Homo sapiens: one gene and its partner. The protein of the gene in region 2 interacts with the protein of the main gene of each other region in a pairwise test. Each region holds a gene or a part of one and is shown on either strand. Other genes may lie near its edges.

Evidence for each region. The genes of interacting proteins can lie anywhere in the genome.
Region 1: the proteins of BRME1 (region 2) and RABL6 interact in a two-hybrid assay, tested with the Homo sapiens proteins (one large-scale study listed by BioGRID and IntAct).

Annotation. Positions count from the first base shown.
Region 1 is NC_000009.12:136,838,948-136,841,687, reverse strand, and holds the end of RABL6 (rab-like protein 6), read right to left. Parts: coding exon 2,567-2,740; intron 2,467-2,566; coding exon 2,202-2,466; intron 1,995-2,201; coding exon 1,823-1,994; intron 1,535-1,822; coding exon 1,476-1,534; intron 1,367-1,475; coding exon 1,166-1,366; 3' UTR 501-1,165; downstream 1-500. UniProt on the Homo sapiens protein: May enhance cellular proliferation. May reduce growth inhibitory activity of CDKN2A.
Region 2 is NC_000019.10:13,882,118-13,885,617, reverse strand, and holds the end of BRME1 (break repair meiotic recombinase recruitment factor 1), read left to right. Parts: intron 1-123; coding exon of another isoform or gene 124-499; exon of another isoform or gene 500-1,115; intron 1,116-2,217; coding exon 2,218-2,310; intron 2,311-2,665; coding exon 2,666-2,816; 3' UTR 2,817-3,270; downstream 3,271-3,500. UniProt on the Homo sapiens protein: Meiotic recombination factor component of recombination bridges involved in meiotic double-strand break repair.

The DNA of each region.
Region 1 (2,740 bases), on a different chromosome or scaffold from region 2:
ACCTCATGGGCTGTGGGCTAAGGGGCCAGGCTAAGCTTGCTGTGGGCCACAGCACCTGCTCAGGGACTGCAGTGACTGCCCAACACCCTGGGGCCACAAGGCTCCCAGGCAGAGGAGCCTCCAGCTTGGCCACCTCCTCCCCTTCACTGGCACACTCTTCCTGCCTGCCCTGCAGGGTTCTCATGGCAACAGTAGCTGTGGGGGTGGAGGCTGGGCGCTGCTGACAGCTGGAGGGGGCAGGAGCCTGAAGGCGGGGGGCAGGGCTGCAGGCGGCTGCCTGGGAGCCTTGCAGAGTGGACTTCCACCTCCTGGGGCTGAGGTCGCCAAGCGTGCTGCGTGCAGCTGCTGAGCCCTGGCACAGGTGGGCTGGAATGTACCCAGGGTGTGGCCAGACTTGGTGGGACGTCCTCACACCACTGCTGGGCAGCCTCCTGCCAACCCACGGCAGCCTGGGCCCGGGGCAGCGGGAGCAGAGGTACAGGCAGAAGAACAGACACACGCAGAGTGAAACAGGAGTGCTTTATGGTCTGAGTGGAGTGTTTGGGAGGAGTGCCTCCCGGCTCCTGCCTTCGGGCTCACCTGAGCGGGGGCGCAGCTGAGGCCACTGTGGGAAACACAACCCCCACTCCCAGGAGAGGCCTCACATGCTGCCTTCGGTCTCGCCAGCCTTCTAGCGTGGGGCCTGGGCCGCCCTTTAGGGTGAGTCTGCACACCCGTGTTCAGGGCTCCCGGCCGGAAGCGGAACCATAGGCATGCTGCGGCCCCAGATGAGCGCGGAGGGCAAGCAGGTGCCGGGGCAGCGCACACCCCACAGCCAAGCGGCCCCTGCCCAGCCTCTGTAAACAGACCCTCACAGGTCCCTCCTGGGCCTCAGTCACATCCCTGAGAAACACTGGCGGCTCTGCCCCGAGAGGGCCAGGGTGTCCACCGAGCCTGGCTGAAGCCAGCTGTCCCCTCCCTTCTTGCAGAGCAGGCTCACACTGGGCCTGAAGGCCCAGCACCTGCAGGGCCCAGCCTGGGGACCACCAATGCCCGGCCTCTTCCAGCTCAGAAGCGCACACGGCAGCCACGGGGCAGCGGCAAAGGCGATGGTACAGAGGCAAATGCCTCCCCAGGCAGTGACAGGCACGCCCCCCGCCCCAGGGCGGCCACTGCCCACGCCGGCCTAGAGCTCCTCGTAGTCGCCACCCCCAGGGTGGCGGCCGCCCGGGGCCCCGCCCCCCAGGAAAGCCTCCAGCTCATCGGCAGCCGTCCTCTCCCTGCTGCGCGGGGGCCGCTGCTGCCGCCGTCGCCGCTCCTCCTTGCCCTCCTCCTTGTCCTTGCTCTTCTTGTGTTTGCTCTTCTTCTTGGCAGCTTTTTCTTCTTCCTGAGGAGCACAAGGATGGGGCGCCATGGAGTCACAGGAAGCCACAGCCCTGGTCCCAGGACCGCATGCCACCCAGTCCTGGCCTGCCAGGAAGGGGAGTAGCCAGTACCTCTTTGCCTTTTTTCTTCTTCTTCTTCTTCTCCTTAGAGGGGGTTTTGCCCTCCTTACCTGCACAGACAGGACAGACAGTGGCTCAAACTCAGGCCAACGGGGACCCCAAGCTGGGTGACAGGACTTCTCTAGAAACTCACAAAGCAGCGAGCCCCAGCCCTCCAGGAGGCCCTGCTGATGGACAGGACCACACTGCAAACATCAGCTCCTGCAGGGGGCTGCCAGGAGCATGGCACAGCATCCTGGACTCAGGAGAGGACCCCGGCCAGCGGCCAGCAGCTGGGAGGAGGCCCACGTTCTACCCAAACTCCAGCAGGCTGACCGCACTCTGGTGCCCCCACCCACCTTCCTCACTGCTCTCCTTGGGTCCGGCCTCCTCCAGCCCCAGCCCGAAGAGGTCCGAGTCATTCTTCAGTCTGAAGGCGGGGAGAGGGAGCTTGGGGGGTGGGGGCGGCTCGGCAGGGCCCTCATCCTCGTCAGTCACATCGGAGGGGTCATCTCGCACGGGAAAGTCATCCTGGAGCAGGGAGAGCAACTGGTCAGGCCATCATCCCTCCCACACCCCCAGGGGTTGTGGGATCTCAAACCAGGCCGGCAAGGCCCAAGTGTGGGGACATGAGATGCCTCTTCCAGAAGCCTCCTCCCACTGCACCCACCCAGATCAGGCCTGTGGGAGGGACCCTGGCCACCTGGCTGACCTCTGCCCCGGGAGGACTCGTCTTACCGCCCTGCGCTGTGTGTCTGATCCCTCGCTCTCAAAGTCGGGGTCATCCATGACGAAGGACAGCATTTGTGCAGCAATGGGTCCCTCGGGGTCACTCTCCGACGAGGAGGCCTGCTCACCCTTCCCCGGCTCCATCTCAGCAGGGGGCCTGGTGCTGCTGCGCTTCTCCGGACCTGTGCGAACAGAGACACCGCCTGGCCAGGGGGGTGCTGCGGTCCTCGTGGGAGCTGTCCCCCTCCGTGGCTTCGAAGCTGGTATGGAGGACCTTTGTGGACAAGCAGAGGGTCAGTCAGGGTCCTCTGGAGGCGTCCTGAACTGCCCCACCCGGGTCTCCAGGCCGCACCCGTGGGGACACCTGCCCTTACCACTTGGTCTCTGGCTCTGAGCACTGCTGGGGAGCTGGGGCAGGGCCTTTTGTGGGAGCTGCCACTTCTGCTTCCTCCTCACTCGAAAGAGTGATGTCTTGACTGGGGACGGGGCCTGCAGGCAGCGGGGGACTCCCACGTGGCTGGTCTTCGAGGTCCACATCGTCCTGGAAC
Region 2 (3,500 bases):
CAGGGCTCAGAACTGTTGGCTGAGACCATCTTGGAGCTGTTCCTAGCTCTGGCACCAGGCGGGCACCCGAGTGAGTCTAACCTGCCCTCACCTCCTCCCCTCCCCACTTGGCTCTTGCCCTAGGCGAACCACCTCCTCCCTCCCACAGGCCACCAGTGAGCCGTCCTCCAGCCTGCTGTGTGTGAGGAGGGCACCCTCTCCCCCGCACCATGCCCGGGGTCTCCGCAGCCTGTCCCCTCCTCCCGTGCCCTCCCACAGCCCTCCTCGAAGCCAGCGCTGGGTGGCTGCCCTCTCTGTTACCTGGCACTTGAACCTGCCTCTCTGCAGAGGCGGCAGCTTATCAATTATTTATGGCCAAGTTTCTGTTTCTGTCTGGCAGGGGTGGAGGAGGGTTTGGGACTCAGCCCTTGGCTGTGTGTGGCCCCCACACCCTCCTCCTCCTTCTCCTCCCCTAGCAGAGGGCGGCTCTGTCCCTGCCTCCTGCCGTCACTCCCTGTGACTTGTACCTGCTGTGCCACTGGCCACCTCCCTTAGCCACACACACAACCTGCACGTGGACCAGAGGCAGTTCATCAGAGCGGCCCGCTGTGGTTTGAGTGAAGAGCCGGGAGGGTTCACATCTGAATCTCCGACAGCGTCCCAGGGCCAATGCAGCTCCCCTCCCCACCGTCCTGGATGTCTGGAAGCTCCCAGAGGGCCCCGGGTCTGGTTTGGTGGCTTGAGGCTGAATGACACACACAAGAGGCTAAGACCCAGGGGCTGCCAGACACCTCAGGGTGACCAAGGCAGGAGCAGCAGGACAGCAGTTTCCATAGTGACAGCCCCGGAGGTGCTGCGAAGCCTGGGGCATGGGCGGGTTTAGGGCGGGTGGCCCCCACTTACCCGCCTGGCCACCTGTACTGCCTGTGTCTGAGAGTGGCACCTGTTCTGTGGGGTGGGGGAGGTGTTCTGTGGCTCCTTGGCTCTTCCGTGATTTTTTTTTTTTTTTTGAGACACAGTCTTACTCCCATCACCCAGGCTGGAGTGCAGTGGTGCAACCTCAGCTCACTGCAGCCTCGATCTCCCAGGCTCGCATGATTCTCCCACTTCAGCCCCCTAAGTAGCTGGGATTACAGGTACCCGCCACCACACCCGGCTAATTTTGTATATTTTTTTTTAGAGATGGGATTTTGCCGTGTTGCCCAGGCTGGTCTCAAACTCCTGGATTCAAGTAATCCACCTGCCTCAGCCTCACAAAGTGGTGGGATTACAGGCATGAGCCATCGTGCCTGGCGGGATATTTTTTAGATAGAGTCTTGCTCTGTTGCCCAGGCTGGTGTACAGGATCATAGCTTACTGTAGCCTCCATCTCCCAGGCTCAACTGATCCTCCCACTTCATCCTCCTGAGTAGCTGGGACTACAGGCGCGCACCACTATGCCTGGCTAATTTTGTATTATTTGTAGAGATGGGGGTCTCACTACATTGCCGAGGCTGGTCTTGAATTCCTGGGTTCAAGCCATCCTCCCACCTTGACCTCCCAAACCTTCCAAGGATATGAATGCCATCTGGGCTGGCCTTTCTAGCACTGCCCTGGGTGCTGGGGAGGCAGTGTGGGACAAAACACAGAGTTGAATGCTACTGGGGGATTCGGGGTGTGGGGACATGAGAGACAGCAGATTAGATAGTCAGATGGCAGAGTGTTGGGGAAAAAAAGGCAGCGGAGAAGGGGTTAAAATGTAAGGAGGAATCAGGGAAGCCACCACCAGGAGGAGACATTTGGGAAAGAACATTCCAGAATCCTGAGAGGTGCTCAAGGAATGGCCAGGAGTCTAGTGTGGCTAGAGCCGAGGGGAGGGGAGAAGCGGGGGATGAGGGGAGGGCACGGGGCAGGCAGGTGGTGCACAGCTGCGGGAGGAGAGGGCTTGCCTCTGAGCTAGGTTTCCAAGTTCACAGCCCCCAGTGCCTGTGGGGGACAAGCCACAGGGGCAGGAGATAGGGAGGCGGTGGCAGCAGCGTCCTGAGAGGGCAGGGCAGGTAGGGGAGAAGCGGTTGGGTTCTGGGCCTGCTGGGCAGTGGAGCCAGCTGGGTTGGCCATCAGGGTTCTGTCGTGAACAGAGGAGGACAGGCTGGACACCTGGAAAAGATGGCGCGAGGCCCTGCGGAAGCCCCTCCCACTGGAGAGCTCTGGTAGTCCAGTGAGGTCGGGCCACTCTCAATTTCCTTCCCTGCTGGCCAGGACCTTCGTGGGGATCCAGGCCTCTGAGGCCTCCAGGATGGAGGATGCCACCAACGTCGTGCGTGGCCTCATCGTTGAGCTCTCCAACCTGAAGTACGGGGTGGGCTTGGACTCACGGCACAGGGTCTGCGGGAGGCCAGTGGGGACTCAGAGGAGCAGGGAGGGACTGAAGTGTGAAGCCCCTAGGTGGGCAGCGAGGGTCAGGCACCTCACTGCTGCTGGGTCCTCACCGTGGCCCCCCTCCCCCGTCCTTTGCAGAACACAGGCTCTGAAGAAAGGCTGCAACAGGCCCAGCCTGTGCTACAACAGGCCCTTTCTGGTTATGTGCACGTGTGTGAGCCGTGTGTGTGCACCTGAGTCATTGGTGACCATGTGGCTGTGAGGCGCGGCCCCCTCTGTCACCTGGTGACCACTGAGCCCCACACGCATGCCTGTGTTTCCCCCACAGCCGGCTGATCATGGGCACCCACCGGGACCTGGAAGCTTTCAAGCGCCTTAACTACCGGAAGACAAAGCTGGGAGGCAAAGCCCCCCTGCCTTACCCTTCCAAGGGGCCTGGGAATATCCCTCGAGGGGACCCACCCTGGAGGGAGTTGTAGGCCACTTTGAGGTCTGTGTTTCCTTTGCCACCCAGCCCCCATGTCCGCAGACCTCCTCCAAGATGCTCCAGGGGGTCCTAGTGGACCCTACAAACCTCCCTTCAGTTGCCCGGAAGTTGGTCTTCCATGGACAACACAAAGGAGGCCGTGAGGTCCTGGCCTCACCTGGCCAGGGTCAAGGTCATTTGCCACCCTTGGCTTCAGGGAGGGAAACTGTGTCTCCCACAGCCCCAGTGACTTCAAGCGGGCCTGGGCTCCAGGAAGCTGGCCACCTCTGAGCAGGGCCCATCCTGTCCGGATTTGCAAATTTTAGGGTCCTGAGCCAAGTATGGATGGTTCAGAATTTGTTTCTTTCCTGGAGGAGAAGAGAGCTCCCTTTGTTTTCTTTCTCCCCATTTCCATTTTATTTCTTCTGGGAAGACCCATAATAAATGATTCTGTAGAGGCCCCGTGACCTGCTGTTTGGGGCTGAGGCTTCAGTTCCTTCACCTTCCGCCCACAAACCTCTCTACCCACTTCCTCCTCCTCGCCCTCTACGAGTTTTATGCCTCAGCTTCCCTGGGAAAGCAAGGGGGGGGCGAATCTCCAGGGGTGGGTGACTGTGTGCCCACATCTGTGTGCAGGCTCTTGAGCATACACGCGGGTCGAAGCCTAAGAGACGCCCTGGGCGATCATCCAGCTGCA